6 linked regions of the Homo sapiens genome follow. The protein of the gene in region 5 purifies or fractionates together with the protein of the main gene of each other region. This does not show direct contact. Each region holds a gene or a part of one and is shown on either strand. Other genes may lie near its edges. The genes, in order: APAF1, ANKLE2, SNX3, ITPRID2, UMODL1 and FNDC3A.

Region 1 (5,159 bases), on a different chromosome or scaffold from region 5:
TTACTCTGGTCTCATGATCATGGAAAAATAAAATGAATTCTGTTGTGATTACAACTCAAGAGGAAAAGATTTTCCTACCTTCACTTTTTTATCCACTGAGCAGGTTGCTATAAATCTGTCATCTGTAGAGAATGCACAACAAAGCACTTCATCCTCATGAGCCTTGATTTCTAGAAGTTTCTCTCCTGTTTCAGCTTTGAACACCTGCACAAGTAACAATAAAATATTTTTTATAATAAACTGCTTAACTACTGGTCATCATTCAATAAAAATCTTTAAGTGAGTTTAATCATTGTCATTTTGCAAAACAGAAAGGAACCTTGGCAAAGCTACTCCCAAAATCAGAATTTCTGTCAGAATGTGTATGCCTTCACATAACTAGAGAACTATTCACTGTTACATGTTTGTAAATATCAATGAAAATGTTACAGGATCTTTGGGGTGTTGATTTTCTGGCCAGAAACTTCTGTGGCCGGTGGCGCCTTTGCCCAAGTTTTGCTTGGGCCCACTGGTCTTGTTTCACCCACTTGGCCTGACAGGCTGCATTCAGCTCACACTACCAGCCTGGGTCCCAAGCCTGCCAAGGGCGAGTCAGGCGTGGAACAGCGAGGCGTGTGTGAGTGAGCGTGGGGTCCAGCCACTGCGCACAGACGTGCTGACTGCTGCAGCGGGGCAGGCAGCTCCAGGTGCCAGCATGGGCTCTGGCTCTCTGTGAGGCTGTGGCTGGACCAGGCACACCACAAGCAGCTTACACGCTGGCACCGGGGAACACGGTGGTGCCCAGAAGCTTGGAGATGCCAGGAACCGCGGGGCCCCAAAGAGGGAGTCACAGCCCTAGCTTGGGGAGCTCCCAAGTCTGGGCTCCCCGAAGGGCCGCAGCTTTTCTTTACTTATCTTCACTTGCAATGCGGCAAGCAAGGGGCATGTCTCAGCCCTGTTTGTGTTACAGCTCTTTTAGCCTCACCATTCAGTGGGATCCCAAGTTCTTGTCCTACAACCAGGAAGAATGTGGTACGCTGACAGGTGGAAGGTGAGCAAGACAAACAGGAGCTTTATTGAGCGATAAAATAGCTCAATAAACCTGCGGGGGGCAGCTCCTTTCCACAGCTCAGGAGAGGGTAGCTCCTCTCTGCTAGGCAAGTCCTCCTGACAAGTGTTCAGCTATCAGCAGAGAGGGTAGCTCCTCTCTGCAGCTGGTCCTCCTGTCATCTGCACAGCTCTCAGCAAAGAGGGGGCACTAGAGTGGGTTGCTCCTCTCTGCAGCTGGTTGTCCCAGTGTCTGCTCAGCACTGGCTAAGCCCGAGGCTTTTATGGGCTTCAGAAGGGAGGAAGTACATGCCAACTGGTCCATGGGCAGACATGGGCAAGCCTGGAAAAGGCACTATAAGTTCCCACTCCAGTCCATTCAGTCCACACCAGCAGCCCAGCCCCCAGTCTTCAGGCCCTTTGTGGCCTGAAGGTGGGGCCTCATTGGTGACCCGCCCCCTTCCACCCAGGAACCTGTCTGCCTCCTGCTGCCATGAATGGCACCCAGGCTGTAGGTGCCAAGGGGAGCCTGCAGGCCAGTATCAAACTGCCCTCAGCACCCCCTTGGCTTCCCTCCTATGCTCATCAGCACCCAAAGTCCGGAGGGGGCCGAGGCGGCAGGGGGCTGGCATGTCAGCACTGCCCCAAGCATGTGCACATCTGGCCGGGCTGCAACAGCACCCAGGCTCAGCCCCAGCTTTGCTCTAAGATCAGAGTGGGTGCCAACAGTAGGGAGAAGTCAGGCAGCGGGAGCAGGCACTTCCAAGCCTACAAGGGCAGGGGGTCCTTCCAGGTCCCCCAAGAGTACAGGGATGCCTGAGTCTGCAGCCACCGCTTGGGCAGCTACAGCTGCACCAGGGGGAAGGGGTCCTGCCTGCTCTGTGGAGCCGGAGGCCCGAGCCTGCAGCTGTGGTTTGGGCGGCTACAGCTACACCCAGGAGGGCAGGGCTCTGGCCTGCTCCATGGAGCGGGTTCCCAGGTCCACAGCTGTGGCTTGGGCGGCTACAGCAGGAACCAGGAGCTCCTGCCCCAATTCAGAAGGGGTAGGGTTCCTGCTTGTCCCCAGCTACCGCCAGCTCCACAGAGCATGCAGCCCCAGCTGCGCCTCCCTGCTGCAGCCAGCATGATGGCAGCAGCCACTCCAGGCAGCCCGCCGCTGCCATCAAAAAGAAGTGTCAGAGCACAGCTTCAGCTCTTGAGACTATTTTGGCAAATTCTTAACAATCAAATAAAACATTTCATTTAATATGCATTCTCTCTGGAACTCAAAAGCCAAGATTAATAAAATTAGTAATAAAGTACACATATAGACATAAGCTATGGAGTCATAATCTTGCAAAGACTAAAAGTATCCTAAATACAAGTTTTAACTAATTTCATCATGTTCTCTGCAAAATCAAAAGGCAGAACACAAACATAAAGAAAAGTACTCATTAATATTTTCTGAAAACAAAGGGAATCTTAAAGGAAATTCTTTAAAACAACTTAGGAAATAGTCTAGTCCAGTTCCTATTTACAAGAAAAAAACCTATGCCTAAGACTTTGATAAAATAGGTATTTTCCTAATCACTGTTTTTTAATCACAGCCCTATTCCCTGTGCTATGAAGCCCTACGTCTTCTAACAATTATTTCCTCACTACCCTTAGCTGACAAATGGATGGCTGGGAACTGACTGGCAGGGTAAAGGGCACTTCCTTACCACCTGTAAGTTTAGAATTAGGAAAACATGTAACTGTATCTTTTAAATCTCTAGAGAAACCTTTAATAAAATGTTCAAGAGAGCTGGATTCCTCTGTTATTTCTAAGTTGCAATTTTCTTGAATTTTAGGATTTAAACATATTCTGATCTGCACAAAACTGGATACATGCCTCTTTGCATTTTTCTCAAGAGATGTGTTTTACCTGTAAGGTTTTATCAGCTCCACAAGAAGCTATTCTCTGACCATCCTCAGAAAAGCAGGCATGGTAAACAGCATCTGTGTGGGGGCGGACAACTAAGCGGGAAAGATTCGTGATGTTTTTTTTGTTTCTAAATACAGGGAAAAAATGAACAGAAATTAAATAAATGAGAGTAAAAGTAACTATTTTCTTTCAGTACTAAAATAAACTGTCTTTTAACATGGTTATGTTCCCCAAAATACAAAATTCTTAAAATCAGATTACTAACATGCAAATGACAGCACAGATCACCAAAAGAAAAAAAATAACAAAAGTAGCATTTGTAAGAGAAATGTTACCCTTTATCAAGCAACCTGTCACGTGTTACAAATGTCACTGAGTTGGAAGAAATCTAATTAATCAAATTAATCAAATCTAGTTAATCAACATGTCACTTTCCATTTTCCTTTGATACATTAATAATGATACATGTGCAGATAAATCATTATATAAGGATACCTTCAAAAATTCTCCATCTCTTTTTTAAAATAAAAATCATAGCAAAATGCTCATTTCCTAACTGAAGGAAACACCCACCATTATTATGATGTACTTTAAAGCTGCTCTTCTCAGCCAGGCGCAGTGGCTCATGCCTGTAATCCTAGCACTTTGGGAGGCCAAGGTGGGTGGATCACCTGAGGTCAGGAGTTCAAGACCAGCCTGGCCAACATGGCGAAACACCGTCTCTACTAAAGATAAAAATTAGCTGGGTGTGGTGGCACGTGCCTGTAATCCCAGCTACTTGGGAGGCTGAGGCAGGAGAATCGCTTGAACCTGGGAGATGGAGGTTGCAGTGAGCCAAGATCGCGCCACTGCACTCCAGCCTGGGCGACAGAGCAAGACTCCATTTCAAAAAAAAAAAAAACTGCTTCTCTCAAACTACAATTATTCAGACATACCAAAAAGATAAAGCAACATCATATTCTTTGTATCTCAATCTAATGAATATCAACTATTCCACCAGTATAGATATTATATTACTGCTCATAGTATCTAAAGTATAAAGGGGCCAGGCATGGTGGTTCACACCTGTAATCCCAGGACTTTGGGAGGACGAGGCGGGCAGATCACTTGAGGTCAGGAGTTCGAGATGAGCTTGGCCAACATGGTGAAACCCCATCTCTACTAAAAATACAAAAATTAGCAGGCATGGTGGCACACACCTGTAATCCTAGCTACTCGGGAGGCTGAGGCATGAGAATCGCTTGAACCCTGGAGGTGGAGGTTGCAGTGAGCCAAGATCATACCACTGCACTCCAGCCTGGGTGACTGAGGGTCTGTTTCTAAATAAATAAATAAATAATAAGGTGTAAAGGAATGTAATGTATACTTAAACCAGAAAAAACTATTAGTGCAGTGACAGAATTTCATATACGTTACATCCCTGTCACTTTGAGTACAAGTAAATATGTCAAATAGTATTGTGCTTATTTTAGAAATCAAGGGTTGGCAGTCAGACAAACCTAACCTCATTTCTAATACTTATTAGGTGTGTAAATGAGCAAATTACTTAACCTAACAAGTTTTTATTTCTTCATATGTCAAATGGAAGTAATGGTATCTATTCTAAACAGCACCCGACACATAAAGGTGCCACTACTATCATTCTTCAAAAAACTTAACCACACACAAGACAGATCAAGTGATAAAAGTGAACACAAAGGTAAATCATATTTAGATCCTGCCTACAAAGTATTACACTTTAGTAGAAGTGATAAAACAAACAAGTACAGTTGTTCCTCAGTATTGATGAGGGATTGGTTCTAGGACCCACTACAGATACCAAAATCCATGGATGCTCAAGTCTCTTACATAAAATGGTATAGGATTTGCATGTAACCCACCACATCCTCCTGTATACCCTAAATCATCTATAGATTACTCAAAATACCTAGTACAATGTAAATGCTATGTAAACAGTTGTAATACCATCGTGTTTAGGAAATAATAACAAGAAAAGAGTCTGTACATGTTCAATACAAACATAACCATCTACTTCTTTTCTAATATTTTCAATCCAGGTTGGTTGAATCTATGGATATAGAACCACGGATATGGAGGGTCGACTGTATAATATAAGAACTAGAGTGATGACAACTAGAAGAACAGATAAGTTCTAGCAAAGTTAAGAGGATTAGATTTTAAAATGTTCTTTATGTCTGCTTGATCTATCTACTCAATTCCTCAAAGCTCA
Region 2 (4,574 bases), on a different chromosome or scaffold from region 5:
CAGACACCAGGACGCAGAGAGCTTCACACGGTGCGTATCAGACACCAGCACGCAGAGCGCTTCACAGTGCGTATCAGACACCAGGACGCAGAGAGCTTCACACGGTGCGTATCAGACACCAGGACGCAGAGAGCTTCACACGGTGCGTATCAGACACCAGGATGCAGAGCGCTTCACACGGTGCGTATCAGACACCAGGATGCAGAGCACTTCACACGGTGCGTATCAGACACCAGGACGCAGAGCGCTTCACACGGTGCGTATCAGACACCAGGATGCAGAGCGCTTCACACGGTGTATATCAGACACCAGGACGCAGAGCGCTTCACATGGTGTATATCAGACACCAGGACGCAAACGCAAAGCGCTTCACACGGTGCACATCAGACACCAGCATGCAGAGAGCTTCACACGGTGCATATCAGACACCAGGACGCAGAGCGCTTCACACGGTGCATATGAGACACCAGGACGCAGAGCGCTTCACACGGTGTATATCAGACACCAGGACGCACACGCAAAGCACTTCACACGGTGCATATCAGACACCACGATGCAAAGTGCTTCCAAAGCACAGATGCACTGAATGGAAAGAGCATGATGGAAGAGGTTAATCTACAAAATCTAAAAGTGATTCATAAAAACATCAACGATGGCCGGGCACGGGAGCTCAGGCCTGCAATCCCAGCGGCCGGGCGTGGCGGCTCACACTATAATCCCAGCACTTAGGGAGGCCAACGTGGGTGGATTGCTGAAACCCAGGAGTTCGAAGGCAGCTTGAGCAACATAGTGAGACTCTGTCTCTATTTATTTTTTTAAAAAAACAGAAATTTGCTAATAACTAGAGATTCGAATCTGCTAAAATACAAATTAAAGCAGATATACAGTTTAAACTGTGTGTGTGTGTGTGTGAGTGTGTGTCTGTGTGAGTTTGTGTGTGTAAGGTCATAATAGAACCATTAGCCCGCAAGACACTTCATTTATAAAACAAACTCCCTGGAATGATAGAAAATGAAAATGATTGACATACATTAAACTAAGAAGCAGTGAATCTTCAACAGTCACGACCTGTGACTCTGAACCACAGAACTAGAGCGACGTCAGTGCCGTCGTTATACAGGAATCATTGAAGTCTGACCTTGCTGTGTTGTAGCTGATGGTGGCACAGAACTCACTTCTGTAAAGCGGCCTCATTTACAGTGTTGTCTTGTGACTATGTACATTTTAATTAGTAAATATTAAATAAAGTTGAGGCATTTCCTAAGTAGCAGGAGCCACAGCTCAAGTGTTCTGGATCCTCCTGTGGCCGCGGCCACCATCGTGAACACCAAACGGGACATTTCTGTTGCCTGTCGCACAGTGCTGCGCCCGGGAGCTCTTCTGTGTTATCTTCACACCTAAAGCGCAGCAGGGTTACTTCATGGAGTTGTTCTGGACGATCTTCGGGATCCTCTGGGGCACTGTGACACTCGGAGCCCCTGGGGTCGCAGCAGATCGGAGCTGGAGGGTGGCTGGGGGTGCAGGGCAGTCATCTCGCCCATCACCTGGGCTGCCCTTGGCGTTTTCATGTCCCTGCCTTTGAAAGAAAAGTCAGCCTGGCAGCTTTATTTCCCTCCTCGTCTGAAATAGGGTCTCACTCTGTGGCACAGGATGGAAAGCAATGGTGCAGTCACAGCCCACTGCAGCCTCCCCCTCCTGGGCTCAAGCGATCCTCCCACTTGAGCCTCCCAAATAGCTGAGACTACAGGTGCGTGCCACCATGTCAGCTAATTTTTCTATAGAGAACGGGGTTTCGCTATGTTGCCCAGGCAGTCTTGAACTCCTGGGGTCCAGCGACCCCCCTGCCATGGCCTCCCAGAGTGCTGGGATTGCAGGCGTGAGCTTCTGTGCCTGGCCCCAGCAGCCTGATTGTGTCTGGAGGGTCCTGTTTGCCCTTTTCCAGGGAGTCGTGTGGGTGGTTTTCCATCCTGAAATCTGATGAGGAGGTTTTGGATGCAAGAGTTGCTGTTGCTGGGGTCACGGCAGTTGGTCGCGGATGGAGTGGGGAGGTTTTGGGTATAAGAGTTGCTGTTGCTGGGGTCACGGCAGTTGGTCATGGATGGGGCGGAGCAGCTCCGTGGCTTCCTGTCGTTCCCATCACTGAAGTGCTCCTTGTTGTCCTCACAGGCAGCAATTCCATTTCCGTGAGGGCGTTTCTAGATGAAGATGACATGAGCTTGGAAGAAATAAAAAATCGGCAAAATGCAGCTCGAAATAACAGCCCGCCCACAGTCGGTGCTTTTGGACATACGAGGTGCAGCGCCTTCCCCTTGGAGCAGGAGGCAGACCTCATAGAAGCCGCCGAGCCGGGAGGTCCACACAGCAGCAGAAATGGGCTCTGCCATCCTCTGAATCACAGCAGGACCCTGGCGGGCAAGAGACCAAAGGCCCCCCGTGGGGAGGAAGCCCATCTGCCACCTGTCTCGGATTTGACTGTTGAGTTTGATAAACTGAATTTGCAAAATATAGGACGTAGCGTTTCCAAGACACCAGATGAAAGTACAAAAACTAAAGATCAGATCCTGACTTCAAGAATCAATGCAGTAGAAAGAGACTTGTTAGAGCCTTCTCCCGCAGACCAACTCGGGAATGGCCACAGGAGGACAGAAAGTGAAATGTCAGCCAGGATCGCTAAAATGTCCTTGAGTCCCAGCAGCCCCAGGCACGAGGATCAGCTCGAGGTCACCAGGGAACCGGCCAGGCGGCTCTTCCTTTTTGGGTAGGAGTGTGTTGCCCTCTGCACTCACTTTCCTTCCCCACCTTCCCTCCCCCCTCCCCCTCCCCTCACCTCCCCCTCCCCTTCCCCTCCCACCCATCCACTCCCCTCATCTCCCCCTTCCCTCACCTCCCCCTCCCCCTTCCCTCACCTCCCCCTCCCCTTGCCTCCCCTCCCCCTCCTCTCACCTTCCCCTCCCCTCCCCCTCCCCTCCCACCCTCCCATTCCCCTCATCTCCCCCTCCCCTACCCCTCCCCTCATCTCCCCCTCACCTCCCCCTCCCCTATCCCCCCACCCCATCCCCTCGACTCTCCTCTCCTCTCCTTTCTTTCAGATGGAGTCTTGCTCTGTCGCCTAGGCTGGAGTGCAGTGGTGCGATCACAGCTCACTGTAACCTCCACCTCCCAGGTTCAACCAATTCTCCTGCCTCAGCCTCCTGAGTAGCTGGGATTACAGGCGCCTGCCACCACGTCTAGCTGATTTTTGTATTTTTAGTAGAGATGGGGTTTCGCCATATTGGCCAGGCTGGTGTCGAACTCCTGACCTCGTGATCCACCTGCCTCGGCCTCCCAAAGTGTTGGGATCACAGGCGTGAGCCACCGCACCCGGCCTCCACACAAGCTTTTGTGTGGACTTGCCGTGTGCGTTCAGTTCCTGTCTCTGAGTCCAGCTTCTAGATGCTCTTTCTGGGTCTTCCTCTGGTTGGACCGTGGGTGATCCTAGTGTTGGCTGTTATTTGCTAGGGATGTGCCTGCCAGTGGTGTGAATGATCTCTTCTAAATCCTTCTAGGAAGAAAAGCCATCTTGGGGTCAATCTCAATCTAACAGGGGATAAATGTCCCTAACCTTCTGGTACTGAGCACCCTCTGGGGGTGCAAGTATGCAAAACTGCATTTTAACAGCGGGTGGATCCTGCTACCATAGAGAATGCAGGCGTGCACCCAGAGGCGACTCCTCCCTGGCCCCTGCTCTTCTCATCACAGAACAGCGAGTCTGCATCCGCCTCCCTGGCCTTGGGAGATGCCTCCCTCTGCAGAGCTAATGCCCTGACATGCTGCTGCTGGTTCCCTGGTTCCATCTGCTCAGGCCAGATCGATCCTTGCACACTGTTGTTTTGTGTGCTGGGTTCTTGAGTTTAAAATGTAGTGATATTTGTCTGGGTGTGGTGGCTCACGCCTGTAATTCCAGCACTTTGGGAGGCCGAGGTGGGTGGATCACAAGGTCAGGAGTTCAAGACCAGCCTGACCAAGATGGTGAAATCCTATCTCTAATAAAAATACAAAAAATTAGCCGGGCGTGGTGGCAGGCACCTGTAGTCCCAGCTACTCGGGAGGCTGAGGCAGAGAATTGCTTGAACCCGGGAGGCGGAGCTTGCGATGAGCCGAGATCACGCCACTGCATTCCAGCCTGGGCGACAGAGCAAGACTCCGTCTCAAAATAAAAAAAAAAGTAGTGGTATTTTAGAAGTCTTTATGTTTTTACCAAAGATGTTTTTGCTTCTTTTATTGTGCTTTCTAGAGAGGAGCCATCAAAACTCGATCAGGATGTTTTGGCCGCTCTTGAATGTGCAGACGTCGACCCCCATCAGTTCCCGGCCGTGCACAGATGGAAGAGTGCTGTCCTGTGCTACTCACCCTCGGACAGACAGAGGTATGTGGGGCCCGGACAGCCTGTCACCCGCAGGGCAGCTTTTGGAAACTTCTGCAGGGTCCAGTTCCACTTCATGCGAACCTATCAGTGGCTTTTCCCAACGCTGGCAGGCCCGTCAGCCAGGCTGTGGATTTGGGTGTTGTGGCTCTCTGCACACAGGACAGAGCTC
Region 3 (5,159 bases), on a different chromosome or scaffold from region 5:
AAAGAAATGTTACTAAGTAGTGGTAACAAATTAACTAGCATTTGGCAAATAACAATTAACAAAGGCATGTTTTGAGTGTGGAATAACATAGTTTTATGGACTCAGTGGATTCCAGGAAACCAACTTAACTTTTTTGAGATGCAGGTAATTACAGTTCTCTGCTCTTTTAATGTTAGTTTGGGCCCTGACATAAGCTTTAAGTGACTGTTAATATTGGGTTTCTAATATAGAACCCTTGAGAGCTATCCAGATTATTTGAGCCTCTGTCTTTGCTTCAGATTTATGATGAAACGTGATTTGCAGAACTTTTGAACTCCATGAACAAAATTGAAGTCTAAAGTAGTCCAGGGTTACTCAAACTCAGAATCTTCAGCATTTACTAGTATATACCTATACAAATAGATGAAGGCTGTGGCTTACTTTTTGGTTCTTGCCCTATGCTGTACTTTACTTTTGCTTGTCTCCCATCTTACCTGTCTGTGATCACTGTGCCCACATCGGCTGATCTATTGTTATTTCCCACAAATAACATATTTCTTGTATTTCCTACAAATATTATTTCATACAGATGGTTGTATTTAACACTTTTACCTGTTAAGAAATAAAATGAACAGTAGCTAGGAAGAAAATTGTGGCTTCCACTTTATACTCAGCCTGATACTAAGCAACTTCTCTTAAAATTAGGGGGAAAATATGAATATTAGAGTGAGAGAATACTAAATCTTGCTGTTTAAATTTCAAAAGTTTTAGTCATCTTAAAGTAAGTTAACAATATTTAAGCCTGATTTACATTTAATTTCAGAATTCAGCATTCTTTCTGGGTAAATCTAGAGCATTTAAAGTGGCATCCAAGATAAAACCTTTAAGGGATTTTTGCTGTAATTTGCCTCAGTAGTCTGACTCTTGTCCATACATTTCAAAGCAGATAAACCTAGGAATCAACTAGAGCCATCTGTTCTTAATTCTACACCTTAATGCTACATGCAGCTCATCTGTGGCTTCTACTTCTGTAGTAACTTCTCTGTTCTATTTTTTCTGTTCATAGCTATCATTTTTCTATTCAAACATATTTATTAACTCCTGATGCTCACAGGTAGTCACCTTAGCCCCATATTTAGAGTGCAATTTAAACTTTTCAGTTTTATTTCCCATCATTCCCTATGCTTTAGAATATTCAAGAATTATATACTAAATATACACTGTACTTGTTTCTTCTCTGCATTTAGCTCACACTATTTTCACCATTTTCAGCTGTCTTATAGTATGGCTAGCTCTGTGTTAAAAGAGTCCTGGCTGAGGCCATTGCACTCGCGCCATTTTACCCTAGCATGGGCGACAAGAGCGAAACTCTGTCTCAAAAACAAACAAAACGAAAAAGAGTCCTGACTGGCCGTACGCAGTGGCTCACACCTCATATTCCAGCACTTTGGGAGGCTGAGGTGGAAGGATCCCTTGAGCCCAGGAGTTCAAGACCAGCCTGAGCAACTTAGGGAGACCCTGTCTCTAAAGGAAGGAAGGGGAGGGAGGGAGGGGGAGAGGGAGGGGAAGCAGAGAGACTGAGGAAAGGAAAGAAAAGGAGGGGAAAGAATGAATGAATCCGGGCCAAATCAATTGTCAATTCTTCCGTGCTTTTCATATTATACAAATGGTATTATGCTATATAATATACTGTTCTGAAACTTTTTTTTTTTTTTTTTTTTTGAGGTGGAGTCTCGCTCTGTCGCCCAGGCTGGAGTGCAGTGGCATGATCTCACCTCACTGCAACCTCCGCCTCCCGGGTTCAAGCGATTATCCTGCCATAGCCTCCGGAGTAGCAGGAATTACAGGCTCGTGCCACCTCACCCGGCTAATGTTTGTATTTTTAGTAGAGATGGGGTTTCACTGTATTGGCCAGGCTGGTCTTGAACTCCTGACCTCAAGTGATCCACCCGCCTCAGCCTCCCAAAGTGCTGGGATTATAGGCATAAGCCACCGCACCCAGCCTGAAACTTTTTACATGTCATACATTCTAGACAGCTTTTCTGATTAACCTATGGCTGAGTTATATTTTGTAAAAAGCTGTGTAATATAAGCTTGTAATGTAAGATTTATTGTTTCTGGTCTTTTTTGGGGTTTTTTTTTGTGTCTATTACAATGCTAAAATATTTTTGTATGTGTGGAAATATTTGTAGGATTAATTCCCATTGAAATTGTTCATTCAAAAGTTATGTGTATTTAATAGAGTAATGGATAATGTATTCACCAAAATGCCCCCCTTTTTTTTGAGACCGTCTCCCTCTGTCACCCAGGCTGAAATACAGTGAGTGATGTGATCACAGCTCATGCAGCCTCAGCCTCGAAGGCTGAAGCCATCCTGACACCTTATCTTCCCACTACAGGCATGTGCCACCATACCCAGCTAATTTTTTTTTTTTTAAACAGAGTTTCGCTCTTGTTGCCCAGGCTGGAGTGCAGTGGCGCAATCTTGGTTCACTGCAGTCTCCGCTTCCCGGGTTCAAGCAGTTCTGCCTCAGCATCCCGAGTAGCTGGGATTACAGGTACCCGCCACCATGCCTGGCTAATTTTTGTGTTTTTAGTAGAGACAGGGTTTCACCATGTTGTCCAGGCTGGTCGCGAACTCCTGACCTCAGATGATCCACCCGCCTTGGCCTCCCAAAGTGCTGGGATTACAGGCATGAGCCACCACGCCCAGCCTGCCCAGCTAATTTTTTATTTTTTGTAGAGATGGGGGTCTCACCATGTTGCCCAGCCTGGTCTCAAACTCCTGTGATCCTCCCACCTCAGCCTTCCAAAGTACAGGGATTACAGGCTTGAGCCATCATGCCCAGCCAGTTTGTAGTATTTTTAACCATGGAAATTCAACTTTTTATATGCTTATTTTCTAACCTTGATTGGTGTATGTTTCATAAGGGCCAGGTCTGCATCTTATTCATCATTATAAATAATGATTCTCCCTTATCTAGCATGGTGCCCTTTTATAGATGATCAGTAAATAATAGTTTAGTCCTCCTGAAGCTGTAGGTAAAAAACCTCTCCGCCCTTCAATCATTTTATGAAAGTTAAATAAATTGAAAGTGACCAATCACAGGAGTTTCAGCAGTGATAGTTCAGTACCTTAAACAACAACAACAACAAAAAAAAAAAACCCACATTTTGCACTTAGTTATTTTAATCAGTTACATTGAATTACAAATCCTTGTAATGATGAGGAAGACGTTTAACAGGCTAAGTTAACCACTGCATATGTAATGGGCAAGTGATGTTTGAATTTCTTGATGTGACTTTAAACTCTAAAGCAGTCCTCATGCAAAAAGAGAAATCATAACCAGTTAAGAAAACTAAAGGAACTTTCTTAAGCTAATCATGGTCCTCTAAATTTAAGTATATAAACTATCAAACTATTAGCTAATCATAGAAGGGAAAGTACTTTTCCCCCTCACCCCTCCCCTTTCTGTTAGAGTGAATCAGATATAATCATGATTGTGTCAAAAGTTCAAAAGGGAAAATGGAAGGTAAAATGAGCTGAATTGGCACTCTTCTCTCAACATTGTACCTGTAAGCTTGATATGTTGTTTCAGAGATTAACTTTATAGACTTCCGTACCCAGAAGTATGAAAATTCTTAGGGGACTCTTTTCGCAAGCTTGATCTTAACGTATTTGAATAAAGAGAGCAGTTAATCCCCTTTGTAAAGTAATTTGAGAGGAGGGAATTCAGAATGTAAAATCTCACCTGCAGAAAACACTCAACTCTGTAAAGGCCTTTTTATCTTTAAGGCATTTACAAAGACTTAATATTTTAATGCGGAAGGGTGAACTTGGTTAAAAAGCCAATAGGTGAAATTAGAGAGAAATAATCCAGTGCTTTCTTTCTGGGAATTATTCTACTCTCCAGGGGACCTAATTTTATTCCCTGTGGGGAATGAGAATACCCTCTGTACAACAAGCCAGCATCTTTAAATATAAGCTTGACTTTTAGTATAATAAGAGTCTTGTTAGGTGCAATTTTTTCCTTAGTCATTTATACAATGAACAAATGTTGTGGTTACCTGGGAAAGAAAATTCAAGTGCTTTTAAATCTCTTGTGAGATTTGGTTTCATGCTTGAAACCTATACACTGTTATGCCCAATAGCATCTGTTGAAAATTCTGAGCTGTAAGGTATACAACATAGAGAAGTTAATACACTTAGGAAAAAATTGAGACCACTACAAAATGGATTTAAGGGCCTGAATTAAAAGCTTTTCTTGTGCTGAGTGACAGCTACTTACCAGTAGCATTAAGCTTAACAAATAAGTAGAACTTTCTTAGGAGTGAATATTACAAGATGATGTCCCTGTATACACAGTAGGAAGCCAGTCTTTCCTTCAGGTGGCACTTAACTTTTTTCTTCCAATTGTAAAACACTTTTTAGTTCTATGCAAATTCTGTGCTAATTAGTTCAAAGTCTGAATTAACGGACAGAATATAATCTAAGAGAATATATAGTGTTGAGTAGTATTTTTGGTAGGGTATGGCATTAGTTATTATGTTAAGTCATTTCTGTCTCCTACAAACTTTGTGATAATTTGCACATTTTAAAATCTTTTTGGCTGGGCACGGTGGCTCATGCCTGTAATCCCAGCACTTTGGGAGTCCAATACAGATGGATTGCGTGTACTCAGGAGTTCAAGACCAGCCTGAGCAACATGGTGAAACCCTGTCTCACCAAAAGTACAAAAATTAGCCAGATGTGATGGCATGCGCCTATAGTCTGAGCTACACAGGGGGTTGAGGTAGGAGAAATCACTTGACTTGACCCTGCCATGATCATGCCTCTGCTCTCCAGCCTGGGTTACAGAGTGAAACCCTGTCTCAAATAAAATTCTCAAATAAAATAAAATCTTTCTTCTCCTTTTTTTTTTTTTTTTTTTTTTTGAGAGAGAGGGTCTCATTTGTTGCCCATGCTGGAGTGCAGTGGTGCAATCATAATCATAGTTCACTACAGTCTGGAACTCCTGACTCCTGGGCTCAAGAGATCCTCCCACCTCAGCCTCCCAAGTAGTTAGGACTACAGGCACATGCCACCATACCCAGTAAATTTATTTTATTTTTTGTAGAGATGGAATCTTCTTATGTTTCCCAGGCTGGTAACTCTTGGCCTCAAGCAGTCCTCCCATCTC
Region 4 (5,159 bases), on a different chromosome or scaffold from region 5:
ACAAGTTGGTGAATAGTGAATTTATACATTGAATTTAATATTCTTGATTTTTTCCTGTTTCAAATGCATCTGTAAAGTAAATTACTTATTTAGAACCTTCTAACATTTAAAACTCTGGAATATGCAAATATATTAGTTCTTATTATTTCTGTTCATATATTTTCAAGCTCTATAAAGAGCTTAAACTTACTGATTCCCACTCAGTACAATTGAACATGTTGTCAATCCGTTATTAAAATGCACTTTGCACTTTTGATATTTGCCTTGGTAGTTTGATAATATTGAATGATTTTATTGGAAACCAGAACCTAAAAAGGAGTCTCATGAAAGAGTAAATCTATTATGTTGTTTTACTGAAAATTATTTCAAGGCTATTTCCATTCATTAAGTAAATAATTACTGAGTGCTGTGAGTTAGGCACCTTTCTGGTGGATGTACAAAGAAACACAAAATTGTCATAACTTTGTAGATCAGAAATGAAAAGCAATTCATGTGTGCTGAAATAGATGTGTTTATAATTAATTTTATTCTTTGTATTTGTCTATAAATTTAACTTTAAACATTAACACTTACCTGTTTAGAACTTTAAGCTAAAGTTCTATCATAAAGTTGAAAGGCAATTTTTAAAAGAAAGTTTATATTGAAATAAGTAGAAATTTTCATGTTATATGTGTGAAAAATCAGTTATAACCTTAAAAAAAATTCACATTAGAAACTGACATATACTATTGCCACACTTAATGTTAAATCATGTTTTCCTCTTAAGATATTATTCATTAATAGCTTTTAAATTTAATAATTAGTACCACATATATGGTACATATCTTCCTCATTACTTATTTCTAACCTGTTAAAGAAATTTAACTGGTTCCCTATACGTTTTTTTATTTTAAGCACTCAAGTGAGAGTAGTTAGTTTCATGTTGCCACAACACAAAAACACCCTTCAAAAGCTCCTGGCCCTGTTCTTATCTATCTGTATATCACTTTTAATAATGCAGATTTAATGGACCAAGATAAGTGTTTAATATATTTGGCATTTAATTCTAATATTGTAGGTAATTAGATTTCTTGATAATTGTATCATAGTAGTTATAGTCCTACTAACAATTGTGCTCTACGTTTATTGTTTTTACCTGTAGCCAACCACCTCCATGAAAGTGATGCTCAAATTGAAAACTGGTATGTAGCTGTTTTGTTCTATTTCTTTTAAAAAATGAAGACCTTTAATGAAAATAAAGTTATAAAGTTTTATATAATCTGATTTTGTTCGTAGCAATAATATCTTGGCCAAAGAGAGAAGATTACAGTTTCATCAGAAAGGGAGAAGTATGAATTCCACTGGATCTGGGAAAAGTAGTGGGACAGTTTCAAGGTAACTTATTCTGAAATTGTGTTGGAATTACATTGTGCTATAGATGACCTACTCTTATCATTTTTTCAATCTTGGATTTGACCTTGATCATATGAAATCAGAAAGAACACAAAAAGAGCGTTTCCTGTACCAGCACAACTGATAGGAGCTTTTTGTTTTGTTTTGTTTTGTTTTGTTTTACTTTGAGATTAAATAAAATGCAATAAATAGGCTTATACTGCTGCTGGAACCCATAAATGAGTATTTTGAGCCCTCTCAACAGCCTGAAAGAGGAACTCCATAGCGGAGTAACTTGTAGTTGTAGAGAACCAAAATTCATTGTTAAGGACTTGAGTTAACTCTGACACAAAAATCAGAATAAATTTTTCTAAGTTACAGCTTGATATTTAAGCATACTTTTTTTCAACACATTAAACCAAAGATCTTTCAAATATATAGTATAGCCAGGCCCAGTGGCTGACACCGGTAATCCCAGTGCTTTGGAGTGTCAAAGTGGGTGGATTACTTGAGCTTAGGAATTCAAGACCAGCCTGAGCAATATGGGGAAACGGCGAAACCCTGTCTTTACAAAAAATGCAAAAATTAGCTGGGTATGGTGGGATCCACCTGTAGTCACAACCACTTGGAAGGCTGAAGTGGTACCCAGGAGGTTGAGGCTGCAGTGAGCTATAATTGTGCCACTCCATTTCAACTTGGCTGACAGAGTGAGACGCTGTCTCAAAAAAGCCAAACAGAAAAATACCCTTGCCCCTCTCCCGCCCGCACATATAGTATATTAAAATACATCAGTGCATGTGCCTATGGAATCCAGTTTAAACTGTTATCCAAATTATAATATTAGAATCTGAGCATTTTGTCTGAAACAAATTGAAATGTCTCTCTGTTGAAGTTCCATCTCTAACTTTCCTGTTTTCTTCAGTGAGTCTTAGAAAGCTTGGATTATCACTGGTATGAGAGAGAAGGGATACTAAATATTTAATTCCCAATAGGATTAGAGTAGTTACCTTTGTGTAACCCACACTCTCTGTACCTTACTCCTCCTACTTCCTGAGTGGAAGTGGTTGGAGAGAAGTTGAAAGTAAGCTCCTCCCTCGCTTCTCTGAAATCAGCTTGTTATCTTTATTGTTCCTCCTAGGACAATTGCCACTCCTAGGACAAGGATAACAGAAAAGCTCAAATTTCACAAAATGTCCCTCAGTTCCTTTTAATTTCTGCTTTAATCTGTTCATTCCTTATTCTTCATCATCTGTCTTCTACTTGTTTTAGCTGCTTTACAGGGAATCTCTTAAAATGACAAAACAAATAAGGTGAGGAATCACGTAGGGAATCTCTGACTGTGTTCGTTGGGGTTAGCTCTTTTCTGCAACTCTAGCAACTTGAGACAATGAACCCTTTATAAGGGCTATTTATTCCCCAGTACACATGTGTAAACATGGTAAAATAAATAATGGTTTCCAGAGCAGAAGCTGAGAAAAAAGATTTTATCACAGGAAATCAGTAATATGTATTCATTTATAATGTGGTGTGGACTATCAATTTATTTTATATTTTCATGTTTCCTTTTTTGCCCCCTTTTTTTGTAGTGTTTCAGAATTGTTGGAACTTTATGAGGAAGATCCTGAAGAAATTCTTTATAATCTTGGATTTGGACGTGATGAACCAGATATTGCTTCTAAAATTCCTTCCAGATTTTTTAATTCATCATCCTTTGCCAAAGGGATAGATATTAAAGTATTTTTGAGTGCTCAGATGCAACGGATGGAAGTAGAAAACCCAAATTATGCTTTAACAAGTAAGATTTTTAAGTGTTAGGCATATTATTTTCTTAAATTATAGCATCTACAGCAAGATGGTCTTATTTTAAAGCCTTAATTTTCAGGAATAGCACTGGAAAGTAAAGAGATTGATTAACGCAAAAGCCATTTTTACATGTTAAAATTAAGCTATTTTATTACTCCATTTATAGTGGTTAATTTGCCTATTTTTCCCCTCCTCCCCAATTCCTGACTTAAGTGCTACCATAACTTATTTGCAGAACCTTATTGTTGTCTACAGATTGCTTTTATTCAAGAAGAAAAGAAGTAGGAGAGGAGCCTTGTTAATCTTAAATGAAGTCAGTCTGTTTCAGGAACTAGTCTGGCTAATTTGATCAGTTTCACTCATATCTTTGCTTGTTTTCTTTCTGTTAGCCAAAGATTCCAAAAATAGGATTCCAATCCTGCATTGTTCATGGATCAGTTTTAAGAGATCAATAAATCCCTCACCCTGCAAATTAGGTATAAAATATATGCTTACATGCATTTTCTTAGGAGAATTTTGAAAGAGTCTTAATGGAGTTCAAGACTTCAGAATAGAATCACAACTGTAGATTCAATAGCTAGTTCTTTCTGTTTTATTCAATGTTGCCATTATGCTTTGTGCTTATTTCTGATTTTTTAAAAATACAAATTCTAGTGCTTAGAGTAAAAATCTTGCTCCTTCCCACCCAGTGAATGTAGAGAAGGTTTAAGTGTTAGATGAGGAAAAAATAGGGTTTTATAATCTTTGTGATCTAAGTGTAGTTTTTGGAATTCTAAACAATAATATGCATTTAATATATGTGTATGTATATATATAAATATAAACATATCATTAATATTGTTTCTTTTGGTAGGCCGTTTTCGTCAAATTGAAGTGCTTACTACTGTGGCCAATGCGTTTTCTTCTTTATATTCTCAAGTCTCCGGGACGCCCCTGCAGAGAATTGGAAGTATGTCCTCAGTGACCTCTAACAAGGAGACAGACCCACCTCCACCTTTAACTCGAAGTAACACTGCAAATCGTTTAATGAAAACACTCTCAAAACTGAATTTATGTGTTGATAAAACAGAGAAAGGAGAAAGTAGTAGTCCTTCTCCATCAGCTGAAAAAGGAAAGATTCTAAATGTTTCAGTGATTGAAGAAAGTGGCAATAAAAACGATCAAAAGTCTCAAAAAATTATGAAGAAGAAAGAGTCATCTTCTATGTTGGCTACAGTTAAAGAAGAAGTCTCTGGTAGTTCAGCAGCTGTTACGGAGAATGCTGATAGTGATAGAATTTCTGATGAAGCAAATAGTAATTTTAACCAAGGAACTGAAAATGAACAAAGTAAAGAAACTCAAAGTCATGAGAGTAAACTGGGTGAGGAATCTGGTATTGTAGAATCCAAATTAGATAGTGATTTCAACATATCCAGCCACAGTGAGCTGGAAAATAGCAGTGAGCTGAAAAGTGTCCATATATCCACACCTGAAAAAGAGCCTTGTGCACCACTGACAATACCATCCATAAGAAATATAATGACACAGCAGAAGGACTCCTTCGAAATGGAAGAGGTAGGTAAAAAATTACTGAGACTGGTTTCAAGTTGCAGACTAGGAAAAAAAGTACCAAAAATGCTTATAAAATGAGAGGTAGCTAATAGATTTATACTAGAAAAATTTATTCTAATTTTGACTTTCCAGGTTTATGTTTCACAAACCAAGAATTGGTCTCAGGATAATGTGATGTCGAGGTAATGGGACAGTTCAGTAACTCCTCCAGATCTTTATCCACTAGTTGATATTTGAACCTTAACCCTCTTTTCTCTCTCAAGGGTAAGATTTTGATGCTCAAGAAAGCCCTGAGAGAGTATATTTAAATTCAAAGCAATATTGCATAATAGTTAGAAACACAGGCTTTGAAATCAAACAGGGCTTTGAGTTTTGTCTGCCACTGAATGACTGTATGCCTTTGGGCAAGCTTTTCTTAACATATCTCAGTGGTA
Region 5 (5,631 bases):
ATTAGCCGGGAGTGGCGGTGGGCGCCTGTAGTCCCAGCTACTTGGGAGGCTGAGGCAGAATGGCGTGAACCCAGGAGGCGGAGGTTGCAGTGAGCCAAGATTGCGCCACTGCACTCCACCCTGGGTGACAGAGTGAAGACTCCCTCTGAAAAAAAAAACAAAAATAAAAAATAAAATAAAAAATTGTGGTGGCTGGTGCCTGTAATCCCAGCTACTCAGGAGGCTGAGGCAGGAGAATTGCTTGAACCCAGGAGGCGGAGGTTGCAGTGAGCCCAGATCATGTCACTGCACTCCAGCCTAGGTGACAGAGCGAGACTCCATCTCAAAAAAAAGACCAGTTCAACTTTTCAGCCGTTACCACTGTGATCAGGAGGAGGCACAGTCACCCCCGCTGCAGGACAAGCATCAGGTTTACCCTATTGGGCCCCACATATCTCTCACTGGAGCCTGGTTCCTTTACACAAGGCCCATCGCCCCTCCATCAACGTGATTACTCCGTTCTCGAGACCCCTGGCCCCATGACATTCACCACGAGACTCTTTGGTCATGGACATCCCCTGACGTGGTGCCTGGGCTTCCCATCTCCCCGGGAGCCCCTACTGCCTAGTTTGAATTGATTGTGTTCCTCCAAAAATTAGTGTGTTAAAGTCCTAAACCCCAGTAACTCAGAATATGACCTTATCTGCAGTAATGTCTTACAGAGGGTATCAAGTTAAAGTGGAGACATTAGGGTGGGCCCTAATACAATATGACTGGCCCTTATACTAAAGGGAAATGTGGAGACAGACAGGCACACAGGGAGAAGGTAGAGACCAGGGTGATGCTTCTACCTGTCAAGGAACACCAAAGATTGCCAGCAGCTCCAGAAGCTGGAGGCCCGGAGCAGAGACTCCTGCAGGGGCTCGGGAGGAGCCAGCCCTGCCCGCAACTTCATCTTAGACTTCCGGCCTCCAGACCTGTGACCGAATCCATTTCTGCTGTTTAAGCCACGCAGGCTGTGTTTCTTTGTTACAGCAGCCCTAGCCAGTGCACACAGGGATGGTGAAGGGTCCCCTCCAGCTCCCCCGTGGCACCTAGCAGGGGGCCCTGAGTACATGGACTCTCAGTGCAGGATGAACGGAGGATTTGACATACAGTGCTTGCATTTCAGACACTCAACCCCTGAGCTCTAAGCTTTACTAGACTGTACCCCCAAGAGGTGGGGGCTCAGTATTACAGTTGATTTCCCTCAATGAGTAGCTGGATTGATTTCTGGGGAGGAACACAGAGATGGGAGCAGAAATGATCACAAAACCACTGCTGTCCTTATTCGCTCCACTGGGGCAGCATCTCTGAAGATTCCCTCCTTGGACCTCGCAGCAACCTACAAGTGTGCAGAAAGCAGGACTCCAGGGGCTTGTTACTCACCCCAGGAAGAAATAGGGCAGAGCCAGCCCTCAAACACGGTGAGGGAAGAGGCTGCAGATTTGCTCTGGGCAGAACACAGGTGCTGGACCACACACTTGCTGCACAGCGACCCCACTCCACAAGCAACAGGGACTGGAGCTGCAACTTCCTCTGGGGGCTGAACCCCAAATCACCCTGCGGGCCCAGCAGGGCCTCTGGGGATGGGGACCACCTGCTGCTTGGCATCACCAGTGGGGTAGTTACTGTGAGCTCTGCAAAGGAACGGGAGGTCCTCATCGTACGGGGTGGAACAGGACAAATCAGCTTCCGGGACCAGGGCAGCTTGGCTGAGAGCCTAGAGGTGACTTGCATGAAGAACGGTGGAATATGGCCGGAAGGAACGCGCTCACCTACTCAGTGACCACGCCGAGCTAGGCAAAGGCCGAGGACTTCCTGCACCAAGAACTTAGCAGAGTGGATCTAGCTTGCGTTTTTCATCGTAACCTGAGCAGAGATGCCAACCACATTAAGGACACTTACAGCTCCTGGTCTCTAGAGAGGTGCCAGGGCCCCACCTGATCGTTACATGGCCCCAGCTGGTCCGCAGCAGAGCCGTCCTGCACACATGCGCACACGCACACACACACACGCGCGCGCGCACACACACACACACTCATCTCCTGTGGAACCCGGGAGATGTTTGCCCTGTTTTGTTTTTAACATTTTATCCGAGGTCACGTGCCATCCCAAGCCTGGCTTCTTGGCCAAGCCCAGAGAAGAAAGCAGTTAGCAGATCCTGCCATCCCGCAAAGACCCACAAGGGCCATCAGAGCAGGAGCCGGGGGTCTTGGATTCCGGTCTCAGAGATGGGAAAGCCTAATGCTCTGGGGCCAACAAGAGTCCTGGGGTCAGATGGACCTGTGCTCACACCCAGGCTCACAAACCCCTGTTGCATGATTGCGCCCATGTCATGCCCTCCCAGTGCCCCTCTCTTGTCATCTGTGAAATAACAGCCATGTCCTGTGGCTGCAAAAGGCTGAAGTGGGGTCATGCCTGTGAAGGCAGTGCTGGCACACAGGGAAAATTCGGGGCGACCACGTGTGGGGTTGCTGAGGTTCTGCCCCGTGTCCTCATATACAATGAGGGGTTCTGGAAACACCTCCTAAGACCTTCTCCAGCTTCCCAGGATACCCACCCATTATGCATCTGAACTGTGGGGTCTACACATTACCTGTTCCAATGGGAAAATCCATTTCACAAATCACAAAGCAAAATCCTGCTTCTGGGTGAAAAACGTTAAAGTAGTACAAAAACATAGTTGATTTTAGAAACAGAATGGATTCCTTTAAATTTGTAACTGAATATGACAGATTTTAAGAGGAAAATGATTTTAAAATTCCGCAGTCCCATTTCCCTGGATTCTGGGGTTTCAGAACTCCCGTGTGTTTTTAAGAAGCTGCCCTGCTCTCCGCATGCCTGGGAAAACTCCGGACAGAGCCCTGGTGCAGCCTCTGGCTCCTGTGGTGACTCTGCCCTGTGAGCTGTGTGGCCTGGGCAAGTCCCTGATCCATTCTGGGTCTCCCTTTCTTTTTTGTTTTTGTATTGTGGCTTTTTTTGTTTGTTTGTTTGTTTGTTTGGGGGCTTTTGCTCTGCCGCCCAGGCTGCAGTGCAGTGGAGCAATCTTAGCTCACTGCAGCCTGGACCTCCCAAGCTCAAGTGATCCTCCCATCCCAGCCTCCTGTGTAGCTGGGACCACAAGTGTGCACCACCATGGCTGGCTAATTTTTTTTTTTTTTTGGTACACATGGGGTCTCATGATGTTGCCCAGGCTAGGTCTCCTTTTTTTTTTAAATCTGTAAGTGAGGACTTGAATGCACCAAGGTTCAGGAGACCTTTCTTCTGCGTCTGTAGGAGCTCACTGTTCTCAGTGGGATCTGAGGACCCACAGCATCTGCATCACCCACAGACATGTAGAGTTCCAGGCCCTGCACCCCAGACCTGCTGGCTAAGAATCTGCATTTTACCCCCACGAACGCCCAGGTGATTCAGCAACAGGTTCCCACTGGGGGAGTCCTCTTCCCAAAACCCTACCCGGCACTCCTGCCCCACCTCCACAGCTGCTACCATGTGCGCTTACCAAAAAGCTTGTCCACAAAAGAACAGATGTCGCCTCTCCAAGCAGAGGCGTCCTTGCCTGCCCAGGTCTCCACAGGGGGCTGTCCTCATGAGACCCATGCCAGGAAGCCCCTGTCCTTAAGAACTGCCCATGCCAAGCCCAGACCCCTCACCTGTGAAGCCGCTGGCCTGGCTTGGGCCCACAGCACTGACCAGAGCCAGCAGTGCCAGCCCCGAGGTCCTGAGCATCGTCCGGCAGTGGTGGCAGTACAGGGCTCTGGGCCTCTACCAAGAAGCCTGGGTCTCTGCTACGCCAGGGCTCATAGGGGCCTGAGCTGCCTGGACCTGGAGAAACGGCCTTTCTGTCCCCTGTGCTGCTGCAGGTGGCAATGACTTCAGAGGAAGCACCGCTGGGAGCAGTCCCTTATGCCTGCTCGTTAACACCCACCATTGCCATGGCCGTTTCCCTGGGGGCTCCTGCGTGTCACAGCCTATTCTGCTCCAAGCAGATGGCATCTTTTAGGAAAGGTGAGTACCCAAAAGCCCAGACCGCATCGCTGGATCCCATCTCGTTGTTACGCAGAAAACACATTTGAGACTCATATCTGAGTCTCTCCATCAACACGGAGTATTCTCTTACCCTATCGTTCTGAACTGGCAGAAGAAAACAGCATCAAATCAAAGTGGAACATCACGTTCAGAAAAGCGTCCTTCACACGGTTCCACAATGCACTTCAAAAGTCACAAAAATGTCCAGGTGCTTTGACCCAGTCCTCTCCTCCCGGAGCTTGGGCTGAGAGCACGAAGCTGTGGTCACAGGGATGTGCATTACCTATTATGACTTAAAGTGGGAAATTACATAATTGGACAGCCACAGGAGAGTGGGAGAGTAATTATTACAGAGCATCTGGATGCAGCATTACACGGGCGTTGAAATGCTCACCATGAAGTTTTAGTAGCACAAACAAATACTTAACAATGTGAAGTCAAAACAGCAACGCATGCAATTTCATCTCCATGAAAGTGACAACTCTGTACAGTTATATAAGCATGGAGAAAACTCCAGAAAGGGCCCTGGGACAGGAAGAAAACATTTTGAGGAGTGATAAGAATACAGGTGATTAATGTTTTATTTCAGTAGTCATCATGGTATATGTGAAGTAGATTTCTAAATCTCATGTTAAGTTCTTTCTAGCTCATGATGTTTTCATACTGCACCGTTGATTGCCTCTCACTTCTTAGTGTTGACTGCTGAAGCCCAATTTTTAACATTGGATGAAGAAGATCTTGTTGATTTTACTGAGGAAACATTCAGATGAATTAACAAAGATTCACGTTGGCTGCATGGTTCGGGAGCATAATTCCCTGGTGTTCTAGATACAAAACGATTCCTCCAGAAGGGACCTTCTCGCCTAACTCCCGCACCAACGTTGCTACCTCTTTTATTCTCTGTAGATTAATCTCTGAGATGATGAACTGCTGCATTTGCTTGGCTAATGACTAAATGTCAGATGCCATGACAAGAATACAAAAAGGAGGCTGGAAATGATCTCACAGCAAAGGGGCTGCGTACAACGGGTGTCCTTGGAACACAGCAGCTTTTATAGAAAACCAAAAGCTTCACACAGAATTGGCTCATTAAAAAACGTTTTCATACGAAAAGAATAAATGTTAAAGCTATTATATAATACTCAAGGAAGTGAAATTTTATTAACACTAAAAGAATAAAAAGTATTATGATTTAAGTAAATCTGAACATTTTAAAATGCAAGATGAATTTGTATTATCTTGTATATATCATCTCAAAATGTTTGCTACTATAATGTATGAATGTCTATAAAATATCAAGGTAAATCAGGGATAATATTACAGGTTAAAACTCAAAATTCGTCTGGTGCACTGTTGTCTCTCATCTTCACGATTGCCCTATGAAATAGGTCCTTTGTCCCTATTATATAGGTGAGAAAACAGGTTCAGAAAGGCCACACAGCCAGTAAACAAGAGATTAAACCCAGGCTTGTCTAAGCCTCAAGCCGCAGTTCTTCACACTCCACTCCACTGCTGGTCTGTCATGATTTAACCACAGACCCCAAGACAGGGGAACAAAATCAAGACATTTTACCAGTTGAG
Region 6 (5,159 bases), on a different chromosome or scaffold from region 5:
ATTTATCTTAAAGCTTCTTTCAGTAAGTTCCTTTATATATTGTTATCAGCATCCACATTTTTATTTATTGCCAATAATTCACTAATTTAATGTCCTTTTATTAAGTACCTACTATATGCTAGATTCTGGAGACAGAAAAATGAGACAGAGATCTTACTTTACTTTGAGAGCAAAGCAATATGTAAAAATTTAGATTTACATCACAGGTACAATTGAGGCAGCTAAAAGTACTTGAAAGCCCCCATGTGTTGGTTCTTCTGACTTGTAGCCCACCAACTAACTGGAGAAACTCAACTGACAAGTCATTTAACCCTATGAACCTTGGTTTTCTCAATTACAGAATGAGTGGTGGGAGGTTGCTCATTATTGGAAATGATAGCTCCTACAGATTGAGCAGTGACTGCATGCTGAGCACTGCGCTAAGTGCTTTAACAAGCATTAGTTCATTTCATCCTCATAATTATCATACATGTTAACTACTAGTATGTCTGTTATACTAAGGTAGTTGGTCTAAAATCACATCTGGAGTGTGAAGTGGTAGAGCAGACCTTGGATGCCAGGGGTGAACAGTTCTAGTATATAGCTTCTTATTTATGCCTAGTGTTCCATTATTGGAACACTAAGCTTGTGGTAGTTATTTATATCTCACTGATCAAGGTTATTGCCAAGGTCTGATTTTTCACAAAAAAAAAATTTGCAACCTCTGGCATAAATGGGTTAATTACTAGCACATTCCTCTGAAAATCCGTGGAATTTCATTCTTTTTATTTCCCTTGTGAGGCATGGCAGAGGAGGTCCTATTTTCTGATTCTAAGTGATCTCCCCTCTCTGGTTTATACAGTGATTTGCCATAGGCACCTATAGAAAGCTCCCCTTATTCATTTTCCATTTCATTGTACAGATATGTTTGAAATTATATGGAAATTTATCAGTTATACAAAGACATAATGGGGGAAGCAAAAGTAGACACTATCCCTTCTTTGATGGAATGATTGCATTGAAAAATGACTTCTTACATTTGAGAAAAGCAAGAAAATGCTTGAGGACCGATTTTGCTTGTTCTCTAGCTGCCCTGGGGCACATCTGCACTCCTTAATTCATCTGTGAACCGTATAAGGGTAGATCCTCGCTTTTGAAATTTCTCTTGCCCCTATGCAACAAACAGATAAGTACTTTAATGGACAGGTATTTTTAACATGTCATTTAAAAGATAAAATCAATGGCATTCACTGGCTTTCACATGAAAAACAATTCTAACACTAGCCAGTTTTAACACATTTTCTGTCCAGCCTTCACACGTAATTCTTCCTTCTAATATTTTATTAACAGATTTACAAGGGTCCCGACTCTTCCTTCCGGTATTCCAGCCTTCAGCTGAACTGTGAATATCGCTTCCGTGTATGTGCCATTCGCCAGTGCCAAGACTCTCTGGGACACCAGGACCTCGTAGGTCCCTACAGCACCACAGTGCTCTTCATCTCTCAGAGGACTGAACCACCAGCCAGCACCAACAGAGACACTGTGGAAAGCACAAGGACCCGACGGGCACTGAGTGACGAGCAGTGTGCTGCCGTCATCCTTGTGCTGTTTGCTTTCTTTTCCATTTTGATTGCCTTTATCATTCAGTACTTTGTAATCAAGTGAAAATATAACTTTATTTTTTAACTCTATTACATTTTATTTTGTCATGTACTAAAATTATTTCTGTATTGCTTTTATAAAAAACAGTGGCATTTAGCACTGGCATTGAGACTATAGCACATCATTTTTGCCATTTTCAGTGCTTATATTGTTAGGTAGAGGCTGGCACTTTATTAGAATGCAAGCCACAAAAATATCAATTTTGTTTTTTTTGTTAGGGTGGGTCTTCTTTTTTTCTTTCCCTCTCTCTTTTTTTAACAAATGCCTTCTTATAGAAAAACTTTCTAAGAGGCAACAATTTAGAATGGATATTTTGACGAATCGGCATGAGTGTAACAGTGATAACCTGATCTGTTTGTTTTAAAGATTATTACCAAGTGAAAAATTCAGAATGAATAGAATTTACACTAACATGCTATATAAAATGTTAAAGTCTGATGCTGTGAAAGCAATCTAGTGCTATATTTCTACCTCCTCATTTGTCTTAATTATTTGGTAAGTGGGATTATGATGAGTAACTGGAGGGGCTTAGAAACAAAAACTGGATGAAAGAGTATGCATGAAGAAAAGCTTCTTTGATAAATGTGGAGTTCTTCATTATAAATATATATTCATGAATTCACAGATAAGTACTTAAAGAACAGACAGTTTACTTGGCCTAAAAATATTTTGATGTTTACTCAAAAAGTACCTCTTCAGGTCTTGAGAACATGGAAAAGAATTGAGTGCTTTTAAATACTTTTTAGAAAGTAATCATAAAAGTAAATTGAATTTCAAACCTATTTGGCTTCTGTTTTGTGAACCTTTGAACTATATGTATGTGTATAAGGGTATACACATACATATATGGCATATAACAAGTGTACACATATACACATAACAAGTGTAGAAGTATATATTACATACATACACTCACTCTGTCTGGTATAGGCTAATTTTGAAGAACTCCCATAAGTTTCTGCTGCTTCTCCCATAACTGCTGCCACCACCATCAGAATTCATAATCAAACCTAACCTTTTTGTTTGGGGCACCAAATCTGAAGACAAAATTAATTTGCACCAGTAAACTTCAAGCTGCTTTCTTTCTTGAAAACTAAACGTTTAACGTATAATGTCTGTTTGGATACTGTTCCAAATTGTTGATTGCATGTGGTTAATGTTGCATTAGAGCACTTTGCAATTGCATAATTCATTAATGTTTTGTGAGCTTGCATTTGTGAGTTATTGGATGATCAGACTGAATTTTGTCAAGTATCACATTGTACATCTTGCCTAGATGTCGATGACTGCAAGTAATAATACAGTTTATAATGAAACTATCTACAATTCTTGTTTTAGCACATCTGTTATCCGTAAAACACCTGTAACTAGCTTTTTTAATTTATTATTTGAATTTTAGGATAGCGAATCACTAATTTTTAGTTGCTGAGGTTGGCATTTTAGTGATTATTAAGCACTTCTGTCAGTCTTTGAAAAAAGAACGTATTTTTTGTGCTTTGAAGATCTCTGAAGAATTTCTTTTATAATAGAATGGGCATGTATTGTAACAGTTTTATGTCAAATGATCTGTGCTGTAGAAAAACATTAACCCTTGTTCAAAAAAGAAATGGATAAACTTGGCCTTTCTAAGTGGTAAGAATGACCTGTCACTATAATATACTGTATGTTTACATTTTATTTAAATTTAATCTCTTATGTATAGGGTGATAACCTTCCCCAGAAACAACAGTGATTGCGATTGTTTTCTAGAAACTTCTTTAAAGTGCCACATTTGGCAGTACAAATGAGTCTGAGTGTAATAGCCCAGAGATTTATATATAGTTGAATGTCTAAAATGGTAAAATGTGCCACTGTGTCAAGTTACAGTGGCTTATGTTTTTCATAGTAATTCAAATGAACTTCCTATTTTTGATAGTAAATGTCATTTAATAGTATACTTGCCATTTGAGCCTCACTGCAAAATTAGTGCAGAGGAGAAAACAATTTTTAATGTAATCTTGATTTTACCTCATATACTGTACATTCCAAAAACTCTAAACTTTTTAAAGATTATAGATACACTACCAAACATATCACCTTAAAATTGTATAAGGCTGAATGAACTTCATACAAATGAAAAAAATCTCATAAAAATACATAAACTATGTAGCAAAAGTATCTGTAAAATCCATGGAAAATAAAAGTTGTATCATTCTTTTTGAGATACGTTTATTGTATTCATATATATTCATTATTTGCTACCTGTTTAAGAAAGTGAAATGTTATGGTCTCCCCTCTTCCAATGAGCTTAAAACATTTTTCCCAACAGTATATAAATCTTCAACATGAGAGGATGTATATTTATTATATAAAGCCCAGTAAAGAATAAAATTAGAAGTTTTATCCTAGTGACTTGATTTTGTGCAACTCATGAAATATCTTACTTCCTTTCCACATATAAAGAATACAGTGAGTCTAAGGTAAACTTCCCAGTGGGAAGAAAATCCCTAACCTCTCCTTGCCTTTCCCACATCCCTATTTTCTAGTACCTTCTTTCGCCCACCACCAGAGGCCCAGAACCTTCCTGGTAGTGGCACTGCTGGGTCTGCCTTCCACCAGAAAATCCAACATTCTCTCACTCATCCCCCATTAAAATTTCCATCCCAAGAACTTCCTCCTGGGGATGGACACTCAGTGCCTTTTTTTTTTTCTTTTTTTAATGGGTAAGCTAGTAAATTTTATGTTATAAATATTTTACCACCATAAAAAAATCATTGAAAAATTCACTGAAGAAGCCAATATGGAAAGAGGAGAACTCAATGTTTAAAATAAAGCCAACTTTTTTTTTTTATTCAAGAGGTAAGTACATAGCTTCAAGCTCAAGGTCTAGGTTGAGGACAATCATGAGTCCTATTAAAGGACAACCAGTTTAAAGAACACTGTCAGGCAAGCTACCACGTAGCTCTCCTTCACTCCAGGCTTAGCTGTTCCAGACTTCCCAGTACTGATGAAGGATCATGTTTTTGTTCAGCTTTGCCCAGTGCTGTCATTCATAATAGATAAATGAAAAGTCCCAGAAACCTGTTGTGTTTGGGAAGGTTTTCTTTTGTTCCAGGCTTCAGTGGTTAATATGCTTGACAAATTTCAGAGTCTCTATCTCTGTAGACCAATGCCAAAGAATTGCTTTCTGGATTCACTGTTAGCAGCTCTTCGTCTTCATCTTTGGCAATGTAAGAAAACCACCATATTCTGGCCCCCAGCCTTCACAGCCACAGTGGAGAATTAAGTCTAGGGCAAAATCAGCCTTGCCATGGTCACGAATTAAAAGTGTGGTGACCAGTCTTCCAACGCCTCAGTTCCCTTTGGCATGTGGGAACACCTGATTCATTCTTTGTTTCATTTTCCTCTGACTCGGTCTGTCTGCTCATGGCTCTGTTGGCCGTTGATGCTGATGGCTGCCTGATTATTCTCTGGCTCAGGAGGGCTATGGCCAGTCCCTTCCTCAGTTCTATCAGCAGCAGAGGCTGCTGCTTCCTCTT

The links.
Region 1: the proteins of UMODL1 (region 5) and APAF1 purify together in Homo sapiens (affinity purification with mass spectrometry; one large-scale study listed by BioGRID and IntAct). This does not show direct contact.
Region 2: the proteins of UMODL1 (region 5) and ANKLE2 purify together in Homo sapiens (affinity purification with mass spectrometry; one large-scale study listed by BioGRID and IntAct). This does not show direct contact.
Region 3: the proteins of UMODL1 (region 5) and SNX3 purify together in Homo sapiens (affinity purification with mass spectrometry; one large-scale study listed by BioGRID and IntAct). This does not show direct contact.
Region 4: the proteins of UMODL1 (region 5) and ITPRID2 purify together in Homo sapiens (affinity purification with mass spectrometry; one large-scale study listed by BioGRID and IntAct). This does not show direct contact.
Region 6: the proteins of UMODL1 (region 5) and FNDC3A purify together in Homo sapiens (affinity purification with mass spectrometry; one large-scale study listed by BioGRID and IntAct). This does not show direct contact.

Annotation. Positions count from the first base shown.
Region 1 is NC_000012.12:98,675,322-98,680,480, reverse strand, and holds part of APAF1 (apoptotic protease-activating factor 1), read right to left. Parts: intron 3,057-5,159; coding exon 2,930-3,056; intron 205-2,929; coding exon 79-204; intron 1-78. UniProt on the Homo sapiens protein: Oligomeric Apaf-1 mediates the cytochrome c-dependent autocatalytic activation of pro-caspase-9 (Apaf-3), leading to the activation of caspase-3 and apoptosis. This activation requires ATP. Isoform 6 is less effective in inducing apoptosis.
Region 2 is NC_000012.12:132,727,863-132,732,436, reverse strand, and holds part of ANKLE2 (ankyrin repeat and LEM domain-containing protein 2), read left to right. Parts: intron 1-2,166; coding exon 2,167-2,758; intron 2,759-4,273; coding exon 4,274-4,405; intron 4,406-4,574. UniProt on the Homo sapiens protein: Involved in mitotic nuclear envelope reassembly by promoting dephosphorylation of BAF/BANF1 during mitotic exit.
Region 3 is NC_000006.12:108,225,802-108,230,960, reverse strand, and holds part of SNX3 (sorting nexin-3), read left to right. Parts: intron 1-5,159. UniProt on the Homo sapiens protein: Phosphoinositide-binding protein required for multivesicular body formation. Specifically binds phosphatidylinositol 3-phosphate (PtdIns(P3)).
Region 4 is NC_000002.12:181,897,739-181,902,897, forward strand, and holds part of ITPRID2 (protein ITPRID2), read left to right. Parts: intron 1-1,141; coding exon 1,142-1,181; intron 1,182-1,275; coding exon 1,276-1,374; intron 1,375-2,957; coding exon 2,958-3,166; intron 3,167-4,027; coding exon 4,028-4,728; intron 4,729-5,159.
Region 5 is NC_000021.9:42,069,436-42,075,066, reverse strand, and holds the start of UMODL1 (uromodulin-like 1 isoform 1 precursor), read right to left. Parts: upstream 3,751-5,631; coding exon 3,675-3,750; intron 1-3,674.
Region 6 is NC_000013.11:49,205,752-49,210,910, forward strand, and holds the end of FNDC3A (fibronectin type-III domain-containing protein 3A), read left to right. Parts: intron 1-1,329; coding exon 1,330-1,644; 3' UTR 1,645-4,028; downstream 4,029-5,159. UniProt on the Homo sapiens protein: Mediates spermatid-Sertoli adhesion during spermatogenesis.